Linked DNA regions of Homo sapiens: region 2 is reported to be linked to region 1. The links are microRNA targets in miRTarBase. Many come from high-throughput screens and were not tested one by one. Region 1 holds a microRNA gene; the other region holds the end of a gene's coding sequence.

Region 1 (3,000 bases):
TTTATGAAACTGAAGATCCCAGACAAATAATGCAATCGTTTGCATCTGAATCGTACTTTCTAGTTTCTGCCTCCACAGCAAAGGATAAAGCTGGGATGTGTCAGGTAGGCAGTGTATTGCTAGCGGCTGTTAATGATTTTAACAGTTGCTAGTTGCACTCCTCTCTGTTGCATTCAGAAGCACGCCCCCCAAAGAAATGGAAATGGTGCCATCTTGTGGACAATGTGGAGAAGTGGCATAAACCATGGTTCTTAACGTGAGCAATTTAAAGTTGATCCAATGTAGTACCTGTTCTCCTTGAAAGACCAAACCCAAAGGTCTTTAGTGTCTCCTGTAATCAGTGTAAAAGGAAACAAATTTAAATGGTTTTATAAACGTGTTTCATAAAGAGCCTTCATCTGCTTTAAATCTCTGTCACCATTTACCATGCTTCTCTCTAGGCTCAATAGTTCATCTTCCTTTGACCTGTACGCAGAGATTCTAGTTCCAAATCCACCACCATTTTAATAGATTTTTCTAGATCTTATATAAATTTTGCAACTAGGCACTGTGGCTCATGCCTGTAATCCCGGCACTTTGGGATGCTGAGGCAGGAGGATCACTTGAGGCCAAGACTTCAAGACCAGCCTGGACAACACAGGGAGACCTTGTCTTTATAAAAAAACTGCAAAAATTAGCTGGGCATGATGACATGTGCCTGTAGTCCCAGCTACTTGGGAGCCTGAGGCAGGAGGATTGCTTGAGCCCAGGCGTTCAAGGCTGCAGTGAGCTATGATTGCACAACTGCACTCCAGCCTGGAGGACAGAGCCAGACCCTGCCTCTTAAAAAAAAAAATTCAGTATTCAAGTGGTAACATCCTATATTGAATACATAATTGCATTTTCAGAACTCGATTACTAATGTCATTTCTAGTAGGAGAAAACTAATTGCATTTAAGCCCTTACATTTCTTAAATACTTTAATGTTGATTTTTTCCCCCAAACACTGCTGCAGTTTTGTGTCGTGCACAGCTTATGTATTATCACGACTCCTAGATATTTTACTGTCTAATACAGACAAGTAGTCTTTGGATCAGTAAACAGAAGTGATTTGAAAAGCTATAGTTAAGTAACTTTTTATTTATTTTTTTGAGACAGAGTCTCACTTTGTTGCCCAGGTTGGAGTGCAGTGGTGCAATCTCGGCTCACTGCAAACTCCAGCTCCCGGGTTCAAGTGATTCTCATGTCTCAGCCTCCTGAGTAGCTGGGATTACAGGCAGCACCACCACGCTGGGCTAATTTTTGTATTTTTAATAGAGACGGGGTTTCACCATGTTGGCCAGGCTGGTCTTGAACTTGTGACCTTAGGGGATCAGCCAACCTTGGCCTCCCAAAGTGCTGGCATTACAGGCATAAGCCACTGCGCCCAGCCTACAGTTAAGTAACTTTTAAAATTCATTTGTACTGTAGAACATATTTTTATCCAAGCATTTAATTTGGAAAACCTAAATGTAAGTATTCTGAAAGTTTTAAAGTTTTTGTTTAACTTTTATGTTTTTGACTAGATTCAAGCAAATATTGATTTTATTTCTTATAGTCTTGAAGTAATACATTTTGTGTATAAGTTTTCTTTAATGTGACTATTAAGATTAGAGTTCTGCCACTATGTTTCATGTTACAAATTTAGCCTCAGTGACTGCCTGGGCCACGAGAATCGGCAGTGACCTGAATCAGGTAGGCAGTGTATTGTTAGCTGGCTGCTTGGGTCAAGTCAGCAGCCACAACTACCCTGCCACTTGCTTCTGGATAAATTCTTCTTGTCAATGAAGTGCTCTGGATACCTGTGTGTGATGAGCTGGCAGTGTATTGTTAGCTGGTTGAATATGTGAATGGCATCGGCTAACATGCAACTGCTGTCTTATTGCATATACAATGAACATCAGAGTGTAACTGAATCTGTAATTAGTGTGTGTTTATGTGTACTTTCTGCTATGAAGCAAGCCACTATTTACCATAATATATTATTGCCATTAGCTTATAATACAGTAATACTTACAATGCACAGTTTTATAATGGTAAGGAAAGTATTACAATTACTTAAATTTTTTCCTTTTAAGAAAAATTTACTTATGCCTGCTTTTCCATAACTAAAAATTTTTAAGAAATATTTTTGGAGTCTTTGGAGTCTTTCGGAGTAGACAGTGTTTAAGTATTTATGAAATTACATGTTTTTAACTATAAGGTTTAGAATGTAATAACAATGTGGAATGGACCTACAATGTGTCCCCAGATTTTCAGTGAAGTCTTTAGGATTCTTTCTGCATTATTAGTTTCTTTCTTTTTTTTTTTTGAGACGGAGTCTCGCTTTGTCGCCCAGGCTGGAGTACAGTGGCGCGATCTCGGCTCACTGCAAGCTCCGCCTCCCGGGTTCACGCCATTCTCCTGCCTCAGCCTCTGGAGTAGCTGGGACTACAGGCGCCTGCTACCATGCCCGGCTAATTTTTTTGTATTTTTAGTAGAGACGGGGTTTCACCGTGTTAGCTGGGATGGTCTCGATCTCCTGACCTCGTGATCCACCCGCCTCGGCCTCCCAAAGTGCTGGGATTACAGGCGTGAGCCACTGCGCCCGGCCTCTGCATCATTAGTTTCTAAATACAGCATTAGAATTGGTTTCTATAGCCATGACTGTGTGTGTACCAACTGAAGGGAAAGTTGAGGTAATTTTCCAGATGAGTCAGTCAACTAAAACATTTTTCACTTGAAATATCAAGAATATTGGGGATTTTTTTTGGGTGGGGGATGGTTTACATTTTTTTGGAAGATCTACCTCAATCCTTTCACTTCATTTTCTGTAAAATCACAGGTTCATGAAATATTTGGAAGACAGCATGAGATCTAACAACTTGTGAAGTGGGAAGAACTGACCATACAATATGACCTTAAATATATTCTCATTACCTTGGAGGCATTTTGACCCACGAAGTAGCATAGATATGTGCTGGCTTCCAGACATGCAGTATT
Region 2 (3,471 bases), not on the chromosome of region 1:
GTATTTTTAGTAGACATGGGGTTTCTCCATGTTGGCCAGGCTGGTCTCGAACTCCTGACCTCGTGATTCACCTGCCTCAGCCTCCCAAAGTGCTGGAATTACAGGCGTGAGCCACCAGGTCTGGCCTTGTATGTTCTTTGAACCTATCGTCTGTTTAGGCATTTATCTTTCAGTTGTTTCATATTGAGAAATGTGAAAATAATTATACTACCTGTGTTTTTCAGGTTCAGCCAGGCCCACCACCATGTCCGGTATTCTACCCAGAAAAACAAGAAATCACCCTTCCACCTGATGGCCTTTGGGTTTTGAGATTTCCTTATGCATATGTGACTGAGAGAGGACCTTGTTTCCCCCCTAAGGAAAATGTGCAGTTAATGAGCTACAAGGTGCTCCGTGGGGTTCTTAAGGCAGTAACACAATAAGTGTTTTCCAGCCAGTTCAATCCTATACTTGAGCTGGTTTTTGTTTTTGGTATTTGTGGCTGTGTTTTTGGTATGTGTTTACTGTGTTTTCCCAAATCCAAAATGTGTTTTGGTTACAGGAGTTCAGTATTTGGAAACTAATTTGTTCTACTTTTTCATTATATTGTTGATATTTATTGTAAACGTGACTACAACTTTCTAATAAAGATTGGTTGTTCTAGAAAAGAATATAAAATACATGGATGATACCTGTTTTTTCTCGTTTCTGTTTTACTCTCCATAATTAAACATGTTTCTATTATAACTGAATGTTGCATAACCATGTTGAGCCAAAATTTTGTTTTTGTTAAAATAATGTTTTAGCTGGTTTTTTTTTTTTTTTTTTTTTTTTTTTTTTTTTTTTTGAGACAGAGTTTCACTCTTGTTGCCCAGGCTGCAGTGGAATGGTGCAATCACGGCTCACCGTGGACTTCGCCTCCCAGGTTCAAGCCATTCTCCTGCCTCAGCCTCCCAAATAGCTGGGATTATAGGCATGCGCCTCCACGCCTGGCTAATTTTGTACTTTTAGTAGAGACGGTTTCTCCACCTTGGCCAGGCTGGTCTCGAACTCCTGACCTCAGGAGGTGATCCGCCCACCTTGTCCTCCCAAAGTGCTGGGATTACAGGCATGAACTACCAAGCCCAGCCTAGCTGGGATTTTTTTTAAGATACTAGTCTTGAAATTATCTTCTAAACAAGTTGATACATTAGGTTATCTGGTAATAATATGAAGATACTTGATTTAATTCCAAAAAAAGCACAATTGGTTGACTCACAATTCTGGTACTTTAGTTAAACGGTTTTGTTCTTATCTTGGCCTGATGAGATACCATAATTTAAACGAATATTATCTAAACTAAACTTTTTAATCCAGTATATTAATGCGAACTATTCTTTTTTTTTTTTTTTTGAGACGGAGTCTCACTCTGTCACCCAGGCTGGAGTGCAGTGGCGGGATCTTGGCTCATTGCAGCCTCCGCCTCCTGGGTTCAAGTGATTCTCCTGCCTCAGCCTCCTGAGTAGCCGGGATTATGGGCACGTGCCATGACGCCTAGCTAATTTTTGTATTTTTAGTAGAGGTGGGATTTTGCCAAGTTGCCCAGGCTGGTCTTGAACTCCTGACCTCAGGTGATCCACCTGCCTTGGCCTCCCAAAGTCTTGGGATTACAGGCGTGAGCCACCTTGCCTGGTCAATGCAGACTATTCTTTAAAAATTCCTGTACTGTGAAACAATTTGCTAAGTGATCCAAATCTTATCAATCAGGCTGGGCACAATGGCTCATGCCTTTAATTGCAGCACTTTAGGAGGTTTAGGTGGCAGGAGGATCCCTTAAGACCAGCCTGGAAGACATAGTGAGACCTTGTCTCTACAAAGAAAAAAAAAAAAGATAAAGATGTGGTGGTGCATGCCTGTAGTCCCAGCTACTCAGGAGGCTGAGGTGGGAGGATGGCTTGACCCCAGTGGGTCTAGGCTGCAGTGAGCTGTGATCATACCACCCCAACAGAGCAAGACCCTGTCTAAAAAAAAAAAGATCTTGGGCCAGGTGCAGTGGCCCATGCCTGTAATCCCAGCACTTTGGGAGGCCGAGGCAGGTGGATCATGAGGTCAAGGGATCGAGACCATCCTGGCCAACATGGTGAAACCGCATCTCTACTAAAAATACAAAACCTAGCTGGGTGTAGTGGCACACCCCTGTAGTCCCAGCTACTCGGGAGGCTGAGGCAGGAGAATCACTTGAATCCGGGAGGCGGAAGTTGCAGTGAGCCAAGATTGCGCCACTGCATTCCAGCCTGGTGACAGAGTGAGGCTTCGTCTCAAAAAAAAAAAAAAAAAAAAAAAAAAATTCTTACCAATCTATGGTAACTTTCACCAGCATCCACATGACAATATGCCACTATATCACCATCTAATTTTTATCACCATCTAGTTGTTATCACCAATCAGATGGCAATATAGTGGTATATTGTGATATATCACCAATTAGGTAAGTACAAATTAAGTTAACATACCTAAACTCTTGTGTAATTGATTACATTTCCATAGACACACTAATTTTGAAACGTTGGACAAATAGAATTGTAGATTTTAGTCTCAATATATAGGAAATATGTATTTAACACATCTTGCTACATTTAAAGCCATTGTTTTTTAATTTAAAAATATACATAGGCTGGGTGCGGTGGCTTACACCTGTAATCCTAGCACTTTGGGAGGCCGAGGCAGGAGATCGAGACCAGCCTGACCAACATAGTGAAACCCCGTCTCTACTAAAAATACAAAAATTAGCCAGGCCTGGTGGCGTGCTCCTGTGATCCCAGCTACTTGGGAGGCTGAGGCAGGAGAATCACTTGGACCCAGGAGGCAGAGGTTGCAGTGAGCCAAGATTGCGCCACTGCACTCCAGCCTGGGTAACAGAGTGAGACTCCATCTCAAAAAAAAAAAAAAAAAGTAAATGCTCCTCTTTCTTCTCTCGCCTTCATTAAAAGAAAATTATATAAAATAATAAAAGAATTCAGAACTCTGACTTTGAATTCATACTTTTCCTGTTGTTCTGTCTTCTTAGAAAATATAAGAATGAACCTGTAATCCCAGGACTTTGGGAGGCCAAGGTGGGCAGATCACTTGAGGTCAGGAGTTCAAGACCAGTCTGGCCAACATGGTGAAACCCCATCTCTACTAAAAGTACAAAATTAGCCGGGCCCAGTGACTCATGCCTGTAATCCCAGCACTTTGGGAGGCCGAGGCAGGTGGATCATCTGAGGTCGGGAGTTCGAGACCAGCCTGACCAACATGGCGAAACCCTGTCTCTACTATTAGCCGGGCCAGGTGATGCATGCCTGTAATCCCAGCTACTCGGGAGGCTGAGGCAGAAGAATCGCTGGAACCCGGGAGGCAGAGGTTGTGGTGAGCTGAAATCGTGCCATTGCACTCCAGCCTAGACAACAAGAGCGAAACTCCTTTTCAAAAAGAAAAGAAAAGAAAAGAAAAATATACACACACACAATATTA

What was found. Region 1 holds the annotated microRNA hsa-miR-449b-3p (CAGCCACAACUACCCUGCCACU, at 1,755-1,776, shown strand). A microRNA usually pairs through its seed, bases 2 to 8, with sites in the 3' UTR of a target mRNA and lowers its output. Matches are read on the target gene's strand: a 7mer-m8 pairs with bases 2 to 8, a 7mer-A1 pairs with bases 2 to 7 and ends in A, and an 8mer does both.
Region 2: the mRNA of SMG8 is a reported target of hsa-miR-449b-3p. Seed matches in the 3' UTR shown: 7mer-m8 at 477-483.

What each region holds. Positions count from the first base shown.
Region 1 is chr5:55,169,443-55,172,442 of GRCh38, reverse strand. MIR449B (microRNA 449b) reads left to right here and starts at 1,701; the gene lies at 1,701-1,797. The region is part of intron 2 of CDC20B (cell division cycle 20B); the gene reads left to right. It overlaps MIR449A (microRNA 449a), which reads left to right and starts at 1,821; the gene lies at 1,821-1,911. It overlaps MIR449C (microRNA 449c), which reads left to right and starts at 90; the gene lies at 90-181.
Region 2 is chr17:59,214,581-59,218,051 of GRCh38, forward strand. SMG8 (SMG8 nonsense mediated mRNA decay factor) reads left to right here. Exons shown (of 4, transcript NM_018149.7): 4 at 225-650. The coding sequence ends at 422. Among named protein-coding and RNA genes, the nearest start is that of GDPD1, 4.2 kb to the right of the region's middle.